Linked DNA regions of Homo sapiens: region 2 is linked to region 1. A link means that fine-mapping ties the variant in region 1 to the expression of a gene that starts in the linked region. Tissue or cell type: lymphoblastoid cells. Region 1 holds a variant in brackets; the other region holds the start of a gene. All regions are shown on one strand. Distances are between the middles of the regions.

Region 1 (8,226 bases):
AGAGAGGCAACAGATGGTGTAGATTCCAGTCAAGATCTGAAGGCCGGAGAACTAGGAGCACTGAAAACCACTGAGGACAGGAGATTGATGTCCCAGCTTAAGGAGTCAGGCAGAGAGACCACTCAACTTTCCTCAGTCTTCTTGTTCTTTTCAAGCCCTGAGGGGATGATGCCCACCCACAGTATCTACTTTACACAGTCTACCAGTTCACATGCTAATCTCTCCTGAAAATACCCTTGCAAACACACCTGGAAATAATGTAGAACCAGCTACTTGGGCATCCTGTGGCCCAGGCAAGTTGGCACATAAAATTAATCATCACCCGTGGAGCACGACTAGAGGCAGAGTGCACCAGTAATATTCCAGGTGCTTAGCACAGATGAACCCACATTCATCCTCACAACAACCCTAAGGGGTAGGTGCTATTATCATCACCAATCCTGTTTTACTGATAAGAAATTGAGGCACAGAGGAGTTAAGTAACTTGCCCAAGGCCCCAGGATGAGAGCCTAGGCAGGCTGACTGGAGCCTAGGCTTTTACCCACCAGTTGGAGGCATCTGCACGATGGGCCCTGCAAAGCTGTTGAAGCTGGAACTCAGGCTTGACCTGAGACTTGGTAAATCCTAAAAGATTGATTGATTGATTCCTTGGCCCCATTCAGTCATGTATCCAGTGTGTACAGAGCACCTGAGATTAGCCAGAGTCCTGGGTCCTATAGGTACTAAAAAGATTAAGTAGGTTTAGACTTCTATCATCATTCCTAAATTAGATGGTTGGTTGGACATGACAGGCGTCCACATAACTACTTATTGCCCTGGTTAGCGAACAGGCCTGACTCTTATAGTTTTGAAGGAGTGCCGTGTGTGTATTTGTGTTTGTGTGTGCTCGTGTGTGTTGGGGGAAGGTGTTTGAGTGTTCTATTGGTTCTCCAGTGAAGCTGTATGTATGAAGCTGTTTCTGAGAAATAGTGTAATCTTTAGAGGCACCGCCTTCCTTGGCCATCCCCACAGTTATCTCAGCTATGATAGCAATAATAATAATAAATGTCTCTACTACTAAGTGCTACTAAGTGCTCCATTTAAATCTTATAAAAATATTATTTCTTTTCCTATCTTACTTTTTTTTTCCTTTTCTTTATTCATTTTTTTTTCTTTTTGAGACAAGGTCTGGTTCTATTGCCCAGGTTGGAGTGCAGTGGCACGATCTCGGCTCACTGCAACCTCCACCTCCTGGGGTCAAGCCATCCTCCCACCTCAACCTCCCAAGTAGCTGAAACTACAGGCATGTGACCCCATGCCCAGCTAATTTTTTTTCTTTTTCTTTTTTTTTTTTTTTTGTAGAGATGAGGTTTCACCATGTTGCCCAGGCTGGTCTCAAACTGATGAGCTCAAGTGATCCACCCACCTCAGCCTCCCAAAGTGTCGGGATTACAGGTGTGAACCACCATACCCAGCCTTCTGTTCCCACCTTAAATAAGAAAAAACTGAGGCTTATAGAAGTTAAAAAAAAAAAGTTACCCCAAGTGACCAGATTTGTAAGTGGAAGAGCACAATTTAGACCTAGGCAGTCTGACCCCAGGATCACAAGACTTCAGCGAGTGATGTTATGTTCCGAGAGAGGAGATAGGTGAACGAGGATTTTGGAAGGACCCCTCATTGTGAGGTTTGTAGTTGCTTTACATCTTTGGGTTTGCAGTTCCAGAATAGAAGGCAGCTGTCATTCCCTACCACTTCTAGTGCTTTCCCTGGCCTTAGGCCACATTATTATTATTATCAAGCAGCAGGTAAAGGTGATATTTAATTATATTTTCCTAGAATTAAACACTTTATATAGAACATTCTTTTAAAAATAAAATCCTTTTGTATATTAATATTGATAACAGTAATACACTTTCCATTTTTTGAGTACTTACAGCACGTACTCTATGCTAGGAGCTAAAAATAAGGGCCTTGCATACATTCACTCATGTCATCCTCCATACAGTCCAGTTAGGTAGGCATTATCATCATCTTACAAGGGAAGAAGCAAAGCTCAGATGCTAAGGACCTTGCCCAAGGTCATGGGACACAGCTTCTTTCCAAACCATAGCCACACCCATCGGCTCTGCAGCTGCCACACCGAGAGCCAGCTGCAGTACTCTCGCCCATCCCTGCCCTCACTGCTTGTCTCTGAGACACTCAGACCCTGCTGGCTCTGTGCACCCTGATTTCAGTAGCTGTATTTTGCTGTGGGGGCTCCTGCCCACCCTGAGCTCTACACACTCCCCTGACTTTTGTACACTCCATAGTACCTTCTTATAGCCACAGCCATACAGAACTCCACTGGCCAGCCCAGCCCTGGCCTTCCAGTCATGGGACAGAGCCTGTGTGTGTACAGTTAGACATAAGTTGGGCCAGGAGTGGTGGCTCATGCCTGTGATCCCAGCACTTTGGGAGGCCGAGATGCGTGGACCACTGAAGGTCAGGAGCTCAAGACCAGCCTGGCCAAGATGGTGAAATTCCGTCTCTACTAAAAATGCAAAAATTAGCCAGGGTGTAGTGGCCAGCGCCTGTAATCTCAGCTACTTGGGAGGCCGAGGCAGGAGAATCTCTTTAACATGGGAGGCGGAGGATGCAGTAAGCCGAGATCATGCCACTGCACTCTGCCTGGGCAACAGAGTGAGACTCTGTCTCAAAAAAAAAAAAAAAAAAAAAAAAGTTAAAAACCTGGGCCCTTTCACACTGCCACACAGTCTTGGCACTCAGCTAACATTCACCAGAAAATAGATAATTCTTGTGGGGCAAAGGGAATATAGGTGTGTGTGTATGTGTGAAGAAAACAACTAAGTGAAATGTGACATTTTCCTGTGTCCTTGAGTTAGCAAAGAGAACTGAAAGTGGTGCTCTCCTGCATGGATAGCGGCCTGGAGCTGCTGTGCTGTCAAGCCTGTGACAGTTTCAGCAAAGCCTGTGTGAGGCTCTTGGGACTGTGACTTTCATGTGACTGCCATTATGCTAAGGAAATAATAAAAGTAGTTGGGCCTCGTGATTTGACTTTATGGCTCATTGTAAAGCCAAAGAGTAACATTTTGGTTTTGATCCATTTAATAATAAATTGTAGAGCATCATGCAATGTGTGAACAGATGATTTTCACAGGCTGGGTATTTAACCCTTGGGCAGGACAAAGCAACAGACAAATAAACGGCAACAAAATAATTAAACTTAATTCACAGGAGAAGTGAGAAACAGAAGAGTTCTAAACTGTAGAAATCCTTTAGAACAGAGTCTTGTGGACTTCTCCAGCCTGACCAGAAGTTTTGTTTTTCTTCATCCCCTTCACTAGGTGGTCATGAGGAAAAGCAGCATTCTCCCTCCCAAACACCTGGGATGCTCCCTTTCTCAAGCACTTCCACTGTCTGGGCTCAGGACCCTGTCTCATCAGCTCGCTCCACAGTCAAATGCCTTGTGAATTTTCTTTGCCAAATGAATGTGCACAGAAGCCAAGGCAGCGTGGTTTACTCTAAAAAGAATCCATTTGGGGGCAGCCATGTCCCTGCGGGGTCCCTGGCACCTGAATATAAACCTCTTTCTCTTTTGAAAATATTACTAAATATGTTAATTTGGGAACAAAATGCAGTCACCATGTCCACCCACAATGGGCAGTTATGCAGAAGATAGGAGGGTGGCAGAGAGGGGACTGCAAAGTGTGGGTGAAGAAACAT[A/T]AGAGAAGAGGAAGAGGGTAATAAAAAGAGGAACAGAAGCTCATTCTCCCTGGAGAGCATCAGGGCAGGATGCTGTGATTATTCTTATTGCAAGGAAATATGAGCAGCTTGTCTTGATTCGGCAATCTCAGAATGTCAACATTTATCCCCAAATAGCCAAGTTTTCTGTCACCAACTCGGGAGGGGTAGCAGCCTTGAGTGCTTCTCCATGGATTCTTCAGCAACTGGCCAGCAAGATTTAAATGAAATCTCATGTGTTACATTTACACCTACTCCCCCTTTTAAGTTGGATTCTTTATTACCACTGGTATTTGGGGTGGCATTTTAATACCCATGTCAAAAAGTTGAAAGCAATTTGCACGGAGTTTGTTCTCCAAGGATTCTCCCCTGTTCTTACCAGCCTGAGAAGAAGAAAAGTGCAACATTACTTCTTCATTTTTCTTCAGTGATGACAAAAGTCCTGTTATTAAAGTGAATACTAAAAATGGTTGTCTGCATAATGAACCTGCTTATTTTCACAAACTTTAGCCTTTGCTTTTGAGTGTTTTCAATTCAGATTTCCATACTTGCCAGTTAACTGACACCTAAAAAGCAGATATAAGGCAAAGAAGAAATTGGGGGAAATATTTTTCAGTTTTTTGATACGGGATAGTCAAACATGACAGGTAAAACATTATTGCTATGAAGAACTCACACAGATAAGAAAAATACAAGCTTGCCACTGGGAAAATGAACAAGGGCATAAATAAACAGCTCACAGAAAAAGAAATACAAGTGGCTCATAAACATAGAAGAAAATGTTCACCTCGGTAGTAATCAAAGACATGTAAATGGAAATGACAAGGCAAGGCCGTTTTTCACCTCCCAAATTGGCAAAGTTGGCAAGAGGATGAGGAAGTGGTCCTTCCCACACATTGCTTGTGGGAGAGTCAGTTGGTTCAATTTTTAAAGTAACTTAAAGTCCAAAATTCATCTTAGATTCAAAAGTACTTTTGACACAAGGACTTTATACAACTAAACAAAGTTACAGTCAAATATTTAGGATAAAAAATATTCGCCATAGTCTTACAGTAAAAAATTAGAAACAAATATCTAATAGCAAAGAGGTAATTGCATACATTATTTCCTATTCATATGATGAAATATTATATAGTTGATAAAGAAATCATTATGAATAACATTTAATATACAAAGCTTAATTTAATATTAAGGCTTTTAAGTAGGACATATAAAATTAATACTTTGATCCAATTGAAAATTCTTTCTCATAGAAATATGACTAAGTGTTAAGAGTGGTTACTTCTGGTAACAGGAATTGAGAGTATTTTTTTCTTCATTCATCTTACTTTCTTCTAGTGGTTAGGAGCCAGAGTTCCTAGGCTCCAACCTTGACTTCTCTGCTTACTTAACTAAGTGATTATAAGCAGGTAACTTCATTTCTTAATGTCTCAGTTCCTCTACTTGAAATAAAGGGATAATAACAACAGCTACTTTACAAGATTGTTGTAAAGATCAATATACATAAAGAAATGTCATACTACTGCCCTCAGACATTGTCAGTACTCAATTGTTGCTATCGTCTTGACAGTTGTCAGTATTTTCTAAATTAAAAAAGATTACTGATTTAAAAATTAGAATTTCAAAACCAGTGAATGGTCAAGGCTGGCCTGATTAGGTCCATGTGCAAATGAAAAAGATTCAGGAATCACAGGCGCTCTCAAGTTGAATCAAAGCATATGGGTAGTACACTTATTTAAATATTTAAAAAAAAAAAAAAAGCAGGCAGGAAGGAAGGGAGGGAGGGAGGAGCTTCAGGTGGAAGTGCTCCTGTAAAGATGACTGGGACATTGACAGGTAGGATATAAGGTTTGCTGAGACCTTGTTGGAGTTCCGTGTTTCATTTGCAAAGAGTAGAAAGAAGTGGAGAAGAGACTCAGAGGAGGACAACAAGAAAGATGAAAGAGAGGAAATGTTGTTTCATGAAAAAAAGTTCCAGTCTTTTCCATCCCAGAAGTGTAGCTACTGAGCAGTTGAAGAACTATGCTCAGCCCCTTGTGGACTGAGTGGTTACCCTCCATCTCCAGCAGGTATGAAGCCCACGGATAAGCCTCTCGCTGTAGGGAATCATAGAGTTCACATTCACAGCATTCCCACACTTCCCTGCTATCAAGAATCACCTGGGGAGAGGGAAAGCATATTTTTAAAAAGACGGTTCCGCCGGGTGCAGTGGCTCATGGCTGTAATTCCAGCACTTTGGGAGGCCGAGGCGTGTGGATCACGAGGTCAGGAGTTCAAGACCACCCTAGGCAAGATGGTGAAATCCCGTTTCTACTAAAAATAAAAAAAATAGCCAGGTGGGGTGGCGGGTGCCTATAATCCCAGCTACTCGGGAGGCTGAGGCAGAGAATTGCTTGAACCCAAGAGGCGGAGGTTGCAGTGAGCCGAGATATTGCCACTGCACTCCAGCCTGGGAGACAGAGCGAGACTCCATCTCAAAAAAAAAAAAAAGAGGATTCCTAGGCTCCTCTCCTGGAGATTCTGACTTGGTAAAGTCAGAGCTGGGGCCTGGTAGTGTAACCACCCAAGGGTTCACCTTGCCCACTGCCTAGACAGAGCCCATTTATCAAGACAGGGGAATTGCAATAGAGAAAGAGTAATGCACACAGAACCAGCAGTGCGGGAGACCAGAGTTTTATTATCACTCAAATCAGTCTCCTCAGAATTCAGGGATCAGAGTTGTTACGGATAATTTGGTGGGTAGGGGCCAGTGAGTCAGGAGTACTGATCGGTTGGGTGGGAGATGAAGTCAGAGAGAGTCGAAGCTGTCCTCTTGCGCTCAGTCAGTTCCTGGGTAGGGGCCACAGATCAGATGAGCCAGTTTATCAATCTGGGTGGTGCCAGCTGATCCATCAAGTGCAGGGTCTACAAAATATCTCAAGTACTAATTTTAGGTCTTACAATAGCGATATTATTCTCGGGACCAATTTGGGGAGGGTCGGAAACTTGTAGCCTCCAGCTGCATGACTCCTAAACCATAATTTCGAATCTTTTGGCTAACTTTTTGGTCCTACAAAGGCAGTCTAGTCCCCAGTCAAGAAAGGGATTTGTTTCAGGAAAGGAGTAGTATTGTCTTTGTTTCAAAGTTAAACTATAAACTAAGTTCCTCCCAAAGTTAGTTTGGCCTATGTCCAGGAATGAACAAGGACAGCTTGGAGATTAGAAGCAAGATGGAGTTGAGTTGGTTAGGTCAGATCTCTTTCACTGTAATAATTTTGCAACAGCAGTTTTAATAGTCTCTAGTGAAGAACTGATGACTTGGACAGAACAAAGGCCTCCCAGGATACAAGAGCACTGAGCTGGGTGGCAGGATGCCAACAGCACCCCCAGGGCTGGCCACTTTGTCTAGATTGTTAAACAGAGATAAAACCACAGATACAGGGAGCAGGACCAGGTGATTGTTACACTTTTATAACTCCTTGACTTTTCATACTACTAAAATCTCTCCTGATAAATTCTCTGCCTGCCATTTAAGACTATTTCTGGTCTGGCCTATCCCAACTCTTCCAACTTTATGTCTTCCTGGTCCCCAGGCCCATTCTCTGCCTGATTCCAGGATAATGCTACACTGTCCATATACCACATTTTCTTTTCTTGGCCTTTGCCTGGCTTGTGTCCCTCACTCAACTGTCCCTTCCTCTCCCTTGACCTCTCAGATTCTACCACTCCCGCTAAGCCAGGGCCAACTGTTTTCTCCAGAAACACTCTGCCTCCTCCAGTTCTCAGTGACCAATTATCTGGATGCCCACAGAAGCTTACTGTAGTGTCCTATATTTTCTAGCAATTTTTTCACTTTAAACATAGAAACAAGGACCTTAATAATTAATAGTACAAGAATGCTGTCATATAGTTTGTAAAAGATTATCATATCGATTACATCTTTGGAGCATCACAACAGTCTCATGAGGTGGGTAATGGTTGTTATCTCTGGAGAGTTCAGAAAACCAAAGTTCAAAGAGGGAGGTTTTTTGTGCTTGCTTATGGTAAAACTACCAGCAAGTGGCAGCATTAAAAGACCGTACCACTGGTAAAAGGCATAGGGGGTTCCCTAAAACTCGAAACAGAGGAGTTTAATGAATGGCTGTCTTTGTTGTCTAGACCCGAGGGAGGGACAAGACAGTGGACTTTAAAGAACAGCTGCACGTGGAGCTGTGACTGTCATCCACACACTCAGATAAATGGTTGGCTCATTATTGCAGCTGCTGCTGGCTTTAGGGAGCTGGACAGCTGTTGCCAGGAGATGGATTCAAACAGAACAGAGAAAACGGAATCCTGTGATAATGACTGTGCCTGTATGTATGGACACGATGTTCTTTCTTCTCATAGCTCAAAATGTTCTAAAGATAAAATCTAATGATTTCTTATAGGAAGGCTAGGCTTGGTGGGTACAAGTAAGAAAGCCAAGCAGAGAGAAGGTAAGTGTCTCAACTCGCCTTTCCAGGGCATTCTCAAAAATGAAGACTTTTG
Region 2 (8,226 bases), 50 kb after region 1:
AGGTTATCTTCTGGTTTAGCAATATCTCTTCCAGGAACTTAAGATATGTTACGTGGTGTGTATGGATTTATACAACAATATTCACTGTAGCATTGTTTATAATAGTAGACACTGAGAAGAGCTAGGTCTCCATACAGGACTAATTAAGTAAATTATGGAATATTCAAACTAAATTAGATGATATAGCAAATAAATCAGTAGGATAGAAATACATGTACTAATAAAAAAACTGACCCAACTTTTAAAATGAAAACAGGTATGAATATGTTAGGGATGATTACAGTTCAGGGATGGCAAGAACCACTTTTCAAAACATATCCCTTTGTGTTGTTTCATTTTTAAAATACCATATGCCTGTATTACTTTTCAAATTAGAAAAAAGTTAAAAAATATGTGACCCTATTTATTAGGAGTTGGAGAAATAAACCAGAAATCTTTTTAGATGGTTTGCTTCTTGGCTAAATATTAAGTGACAAATTTAAATAGAATTCATGGGTCAAATTAAAAAGTACTGTTCTGCAAATTTACAAGTACTTGAATATTAAATACTACTTCAGTATAGCTTTTTGAGGGAAGAGAAATTCACATTTTCTGGTTTCCTTCAGATTGCCTAGAACTAGTCCTGTGGAGTTGGCCAGGGCACATATTTTCTCTGGCAACTTCCGGTTCTAAGGTTCAACATTCCTACCCTGTTTCTAATGATTCCTTTCGTAGGTTGACTACACATACACAAATGAATAGTAGTGAAGATTGCCACCTAGTGCAGTGATGTTTATGATGGCACACATAAACACACATTTATATATAGGACTGTGATGTTAACTGTATTCCTTCTGAGGGTTATGGTAAAAAAAAAAATAAAACAGCAATAAGGTAGACTCTTGATTTTATAAACTGCAGTCCTCTAAGTATTTCAAGTATATTAAGATCATTGTGTAAAGCTGTTAATTAAATATATTATTAACAGGGGGCAGCCATGCCTAAAAAAAAAAAAAAAAAGTCCAGCACTGATTCGATTATTGGAAACCCCTAAGCAAGATAAAGAGGGCTTTTAACCCCATAAATAATATCTTTAATATCACATGATTACTACAGTTAGAATTTAGTTTTTATTATTTCATTTCTTTTGTCGGAAACAAACCTGGTTTAAAGAATGATTAACCATGGTTAGTTCTGAAAGAGGAAAATTATGTGAAATGTACATTTTATTAGAAAGAACATCATAATATTTTAAGAACGCAATTAACTCCAAATCTCTGTTTCCATCATCAATTGTTTTCCATTCCTTATCACATGTTCTTTGCACCAGCTGTTCCGCGGAAGTGATATTAAGAAGCAATGGTTAAGACTGTAAAAGCATAAAACATTCCAAAAAAGGACAGAATGCAATAGCTTCTAAGATATTAAAGTACAACTACACTGAAAGATAGAACAGATGGTTCTTGCATGAGGTCATAATCAATGTGATGAGGTTATTTGAAAATGGCTCAGCATTAAGTAAAATTTAAAAATACTACACTAGCCGGGCATGGTAGCTCATGCCTATAATCCTGGCTCTTTGGGAGGTCGAGGCAGGCGGATCACCTGAGGCCAGGAGTTTGAGAACAGCCTGGCAAAATGGTGAGACCCCATTTCTATAAAAATAAATAATAAAAATTAAAAATACTACACCAAGAACTATGTATAATTTCATCTTGCTTTTTAGTTTTTTTTACTATGGTAAAATTTTAAATTTTTTTGGTGTGGGATTTGGTGAGTTCCCACTCAAATCTTTTATAATGAATAAGTATATTGATGTCAATCTGTTCATACAATCAACATATATATATCAAAAGAAGTCTAACATCTTCATAATTTTTTAAGAATTAGCTGTCACACAAGTCTACTTACATGAATCAATGATGTAAGAACAACACATAGCAAATAACTTTATAAACCTATTAATGGCTTAAATTGATTTAGCTTACTTATTTGAATCAACAAAGTCAGAACACATAGCAAACCACTTCATAAGCAATGGACTTCAGATAGGAAGCCTAGGATTTGGGTTTTGAATATACCACTGATTAGGTGTATGACCTTGGGAAGACATTTAACCGTTCTACAAAATGACAGGTATTAAACCAGATGCATTACAAGATTCTAATATCTGTAATCTAGTATTTAATATTTGAATTGCATGACCAACTGGTAGCATGGAATAAAAAAAAATCACTCTATTTCAGAAAGTATTGCTTGGTATAATAGAAAGAACATAAATTTCCATCTTAAAGGACTTAAGAATCCACTTCCAGTTAAAACAAAAACAAGTCCTTTGATGTAACCATATGGTGCCCATAAATCAATTTAAGTTCCTAAAACTTCCTTAAAAGCTAATAAGCTTTTATTGGTTAATTATAAAACTGAATGAGGTGAGAAAAACACAGAACCTTGTTAATTTCACTAATGAATCAAATTTAAAGAACATAAAGAGGTCAGGGGCTTAACTGATGCAAAAATACACACTTTATTAAAGCAAGTTTTGCAATTTAGTTCAGCTTTAAGAAAAACATTAGAAAATTTACTTCGGAAAAGCAGAAAATGCTTAAATTTCCCAATTTCCATTTAGATGAGTATATATTCATATAAAGACTGGTAAATGGTGAAAACTATTTCAATGCAAGATTATATTTTAAGGGATTTACCACATAATCTCAGTAACTAATGCTGTTCTTTAAAATTATTTTTTCAATTTTATTTTCATATGAATTTAGCCTAAACGTTGAGGCATACTTCACGTTTATCAATAAATACTTATTAAATGTCTACTATTTAACAGGAAAGCTTTATAGGTGCTGGAGATACAATAATGGAAGATCAAGCCCTGCATTTAAAGACCTTAGTAGGGTAAGTGAGACTGCAGATAAAAAGGGCTTAAGAGGTAAGAAAGCAAGCTATAGTTGTATTTAGGAAAAAAGGTCCCCCACTTAGGAATCAAGGAACGGTTCCTGAAGCAAGTGACATGTAAGTAGGGACCTCCCAACCGTGTTTCCCATTGGTTACAACAAGGCCAGATGTTTTGGTCTATTTTGACTATGTCATATTTTTCGTTGATCCATGGCAAGGGCCACAGTAGGAATATAATATATATGTGATTACTTTTAGAAATAAAAAGTGACTTTGATGTAAAGAATTCCATTACCGGAGGCCAGAATTTCAACATCAATTTATTTGGAGGTGGAGTGAGGTGGCAGTCAATGCATTATTTTCCCCACACAGAAGAGAAGATTTTGGAGTATGAAAAGTAGGTTACTTGTTAGGTCAGCATATTCATGGGAAGGGTTGTGTAAAGACTGAAGCGGGAGTGTGGGGTTGAGAAGGGCGCTGAAACCTAAGCCAAGGAAGTTAAGACTTCATTACTTCTGACGTTTATTTAGGGGGTTTACACTCTAGGTTACCGTGGGGGAAAGACTGATTGTAAATAACTACAATACCTTAAAGTAATTACTATAACAGAACTATATCCGAAATACAAGGTTAACACGGAAAAGGGAACACCCAACTGTGCCTATGGGGACCAGGGAGGGCTCTCCCGGGATGGCTTTGAGCGAGGCGTGGGAATTATCCCCATCGCATGCCCGGGGGAAGCACAGCGGGACCCAGCAGCTTCGGCCAAGCGCAAGCGGCCGGAGAACGCGCAGCTTTCCCGAGGCGGGGTGACGCAGGGCCCTCGCGAGTGGAAAACAGGGGCCAAGTCGCGGCCTGGCGGCTCGGTTCGGACTTCCTACTTTATTCAAAGGGAGTCATTGAAGGCGTTTTCGGAGGAGCAGCGAACAAAGAGCTCGTCCGTAAGCCAGATGGTCAAAGGAATCAGTGGGAGGACCCGGGCGGCGCCGTCTCTCCACGTCCCGCGGGACTTACCCGGACAACCCTTCCTCCTTGGCTCTGGAAGAAGCCCCTTCGTCATTTACCAGTTTGGCCTGAATCCTAACTACTGTGCCTCCAAATTTCTGAATTTTCTCAAAAGGAAAAAAAAAAAGGAAAGTCCTCTTTCTTTACCCAAGCAAAGACTAGCTCCCCGGGCTCAACCGCCAGGCCCAGGAGCACCAGGAAGCGTTTCGAATCCAGCGCCGGGCCCGCGCGGCCCCGCCTCTTCCGGGAAGTGACTGACCCCTTTCCCCCAATGGGGCCCGCTCGGCTTTCCCTTGCCGGCTCCCAGCCGGCCTAGCGGACGCATGCGTAGACCAGCTGCCGGGGGCGCTCAATTATCTTTCCCTTTTACTTAGGCAAATCACTCACCTCCCCCGAGTCCGGTCACTGCGGAGCCGCCCGTGCCTACCAGCTTCCCCCACCCGCTAAGGGGCACTTCCGGCCTCTCAGACTCCGGCGGCGCGAAACCCCGCAACTGCGCAGGCGCGGGCGGAGCCCGAAGGGAGGGAGGGCGGGGCGCAGGCGCGGTTAGTACCGCGGTGGGCGCCGGGGCTCCCGGGAATCTACCTTCTCCTGCGGCCGGCACGCGGTTCCCAGGGGGCCAGCGGCGGTCAGCCGAGGTCGAGACGCCCGCAGGGTGGCCTTAGCGGCCGGTCGTACCACGGCAGCCCCGCCGATCAGGTTCCTTTGGGAGACTTCGACTTGTTGGCGGTAGGGTGAAGGCGCGCGCTGTCGCTTTCCCTTGCTCCGGGGTTCATCCTCCGCCCGCTGCCCCCTTGGCTGGCGACCCCCAGCCACCCGGGAGAGGCAGGGTCAGCTGAGCTGCGGCGGTGTTCATGGTCGTCCTTGCGGGCCCGGGCGGGAGATGTCCGTTCCTCGGGCGGGTCGGGCGGCCGGCGGCACCTTCGCGCGCTCTCCGAGGCGGCACCGGTCTCCTGAGCCGCGGGAAACCTGGCGTCTGCTCCGGGCCGTCCCCTCCCAGGCGGCCGTCCCCTCCCAGGCGGCCGTCCCCAGACTCTCCCGGGCTGTGGCGAATAACTGTAAAGCGGGGAGAGGTCTGGGGAAAGCTGGGGTAGGGAGTGGCTCTTAGCATGAGTCTGATGATATCTCGCAGGCGGCAACTGGTGTGTTTAAAGGGTGTATGCAAAGATCACTGAAATCGGATTTGTCATTAAAGCCCAGTTTTACGAAAATGCAAATTGTATTACCTAGAAAAATTAACATGTGTTCAAAGGTTTACTGATGGCATTTCTCTGCCCTCATTTCTTACAGAAATGAACCGGAGAAGAATCCCAATTGGGAATTGCGGAAAACAGGACTCTAGGGTAGAGAAAGGTTGTAGAACCAATAGGGTTTGAGGTAATACTGTGAAAATTCTTAGAGCAATCATTTGGTGTTTGAGCCCTCAAGACAGAAGTTTTGTGAGCGCTTATTACTCTGCATATGTCACGAGTAGTAGATTAAAAGCCAGTGTTTTAAAGGCAAACTTCTCAGTAATATATATTCAAAGGAAAAAAGAAAAACCCAAATCTCCTGACTTTTATATGGTTGCAGTGTGATCTTTTAACATGTACAATAGTATATACAGTGGCATGCAGTTTGTTCCATGGGTGTGTGGGTAGAGAGGGAACATATTAGAACTTCTATTTAGATTTATTTCATTTGATTTCTACGTGAAACATAGGGTATTAATTTTATGTTGGAACATGTATTTCAAATTTCTTTTGCTTAATGGGTGCAAGTACAAAACGTTTGGAGGCCACTAGTATATTGCCTAAAAGCGTGTATTTATATCACAAAAAGCCAGAATTGTGTGACTCTGAGCAGGTTGGTACCACCTCTTTAAGTTTCAGTTCTTCTTATGCAAGTTGGAAGAAATAATACAGTTATCAGTGCATCCTCTGTATCCGTGGACTCAATCAAGGGACTGAAAATATTTCAGAGGAAAAAAAGTGGATGGTTGCACAGACTTTTTTTTGTTCTTGTCATTATTCCCTAAACAGTACAGTATAACAACTATTCACATAGCATTTGCATTGTGTTAGGTTATATAAGTAATCTAGAGATAACTTTTAAGTATGTGGGGAGGTTATATGCAAATATGACACCATTTCATATAAGGGACTTGAGCATCTGTGGATTTTGGTATCTGAGTGAGAGAGAGGGGCTGTCATTTTGGAACCAATTCTTAGGGATTGACTGTACCTAGCTGACAGGATTCTTAAATATGTGGACACAGAGAGGAAGAGAAAGTTATGTAGTTATATATCGACATCTGTCTGCAATCCGTATAAACCAGTTAGTATTGAGCCTGGCAAAAAGTACACAAGTCATGTTAAAGGTATTACAGTGAAAAACAAGTTTTATTCCCCAAAGGTTTATTTTACTGAGTGTATTTTACTGAATCTGTAGAATTTTATGTAAAACCTACCTAAATCTTGACTGTCATTTTTAGACCAAAGTTAGGAAAAATAATTAAAGCTGTACTTGGCTTACTTTTAGGAATTAGTAAGTAACTCAAAATTTTACCGTGATAGCTTGCATTATATTTAAGACACAATTAAATGCCATAGTTCTTTATACACAACGATAAGTCCAGCTGACTGAGGGTCAAGCGTAGTTGCTTAGGTTAATGTTAGCATTTTTGATTCACTATTTAAACAAGTTAACATCTTTTCTCTCTGAGCATGCTTTTCTTGGTCACCAAATTCAAACTACTTCCAGTAGCTTCCTTAGCTCCACCCACAAATCTTTCTCCATTGCAGAGTATCCTTTACTACTGACTGGCCTCTATCTCAAAATACCTTAGGAGCACTTGAAACTCAGTGTTTTCTTTCTTTCTTTTTTTTCCTCTTTTTTTTTTTTTTTTGTTTGAGACAGAGTTTTACTCTTGTCGCCGAGGTTGGAGTGCAGTGGTGCAATCCTGCCTCCCGGGTTCAAGCGATTCTCCTGCCTCAGCCTCCGGAGTAGCTGGGATTACAGGCATGCACCACCACACTTGGCTAATTTTGTATTTTTAGTAGAGATGGGGTTTCACCACGTTGGGCTGGCTGGTCTTGAGCGCCTTACCTCAAGTGATCCATCCATCTCGGCCTCCCAAAGTGCTGGGATGACAAGGCGTGAGCTACTGAGCCCAGCCCAAACTCAGTGTTTTCAAATAAAATAAATTTCATTCTCCCTACTTGCCAAACCTGTTCCATGAACTTATAATGGCATTTAGTATTAAGTGTGAAGATGAAACACAAAATGAAGTTTTATAAAGCACACCCAAAGTTTTGATTGACTTTAATAGTAACATTAGAGAATCTTTTTTTTTTTTTTTTTTTTTTTTGAGACAGCTGTTCACTCTTGTTGTCCAGGCTGGAGGGCAGTGACATGATTTCGGCTCACTGCAACCTCTGCCTCTCAGGTTCAAGTGATTCTCCTGCCTCAACCTCCTGAGTAGCTGGGATTACAGGCATGCGCCACCAAGCCCAGCTAATTTTTTTTTGTATTTTTAGTAGAGATGGGGTTTCACCATGTTGGCCAGGCTGGTCTCGAACTCCTGACCTCAGGTGATCCGCCTGCCTTGGCCTTCCAAAGTACTGAGATTGCAGGCATGAGCCACCCGCCCAGCCAATAATAGAATCTTTTTTTTAAGTTTAATGAAGGATAGACGAGATGAAGGACAGATTAATAGCCAATTTCACTCTCTATGAATAATTAACTGTCAAACTTCAGTTTATGCCAGTAGGAACCTGGGCGTTAAAGAGGTTTAACTGGGTTTTGACAAACCTGGATTTGGATCTGAGCTCTGCTATGTTAGAGCTATAGAAGCCTTTGTATGTTAGAACTAAGTTGTAGCTACATAAATTCAAGTCATTTACTTGTGCCTCAGTCTCTCCTTTTGTAAAAATAAGGGCAATATTTATCTCATAAAGATGTTGGGGATCAAAGGAAATAGAAAGTGTTCATCTCAAAAGCTAAGTATGTAGTTATTCAGCAGATGTTAATTCTACTCACCCATTTGTACTCACCAATTCTACTAATTCAGTCTTTTAAATCTCTTGTTTTATCTCTTCCCTTTGTCCCTGATATTACCACTGCTTTTGTTTAGCAACTCATCTCTTCTGCTACTATTCTTACTTTCTGTTTCATCTATCTTCTATATTGAGCCACAGGATGTTTTCAGTACAGAAATCTAAGTGTTCAGATTTTATTAACTGAAATGCTGTGCTTTATACTTCCCGGTTTTGCTGATCCTGAAATTTTAGATGGGTGGACTTAATGAATAAGTCTCATATAATTTCGTGATATATTCCAAGCAGTGTACTTAAT

What was found. PIP is the estimated chance that this variant, and not a neighbour inherited with it, causes the effect.
Region 2: it holds the start of SMC6, and the variant in region 1 is fine-mapped to the expression of SMC6 in lymphoblastoid cells (GTEx, PIP 0.99).

Annotation. Positions count from the first base shown.
Region 1 is chr2:17,800,052-17,808,277 of GRCh38, reverse strand. LOC105373449 (a long non-coding RNA gene) reads left to right here and starts at 7,964. Exons shown (of 4, transcript XR_939762.3): 1 at 7,964-8,174. The variant A/T (reference allele first, on the strand shown) is at 3,703.
Region 2 is chr2:17,750,020-17,758,245 of GRCh38, reverse strand. It overlaps SMC6 (structural maintenance of chromosomes 6), which reads left to right and starts at 4,436. Exons shown (of 28, transcript NM_001142286.2): 1 at 4,436-4,620; 2 at 5,182-5,268. GEN1 (GEN1 Holliday junction 5' flap endonuclease) reads right to left here and starts at 4,108. Exons shown (of 14, transcript NM_001130009.3): 1 at 3,901-4,108. RefSeq lists silencers at 4,321-4,460, 4,601-4,960.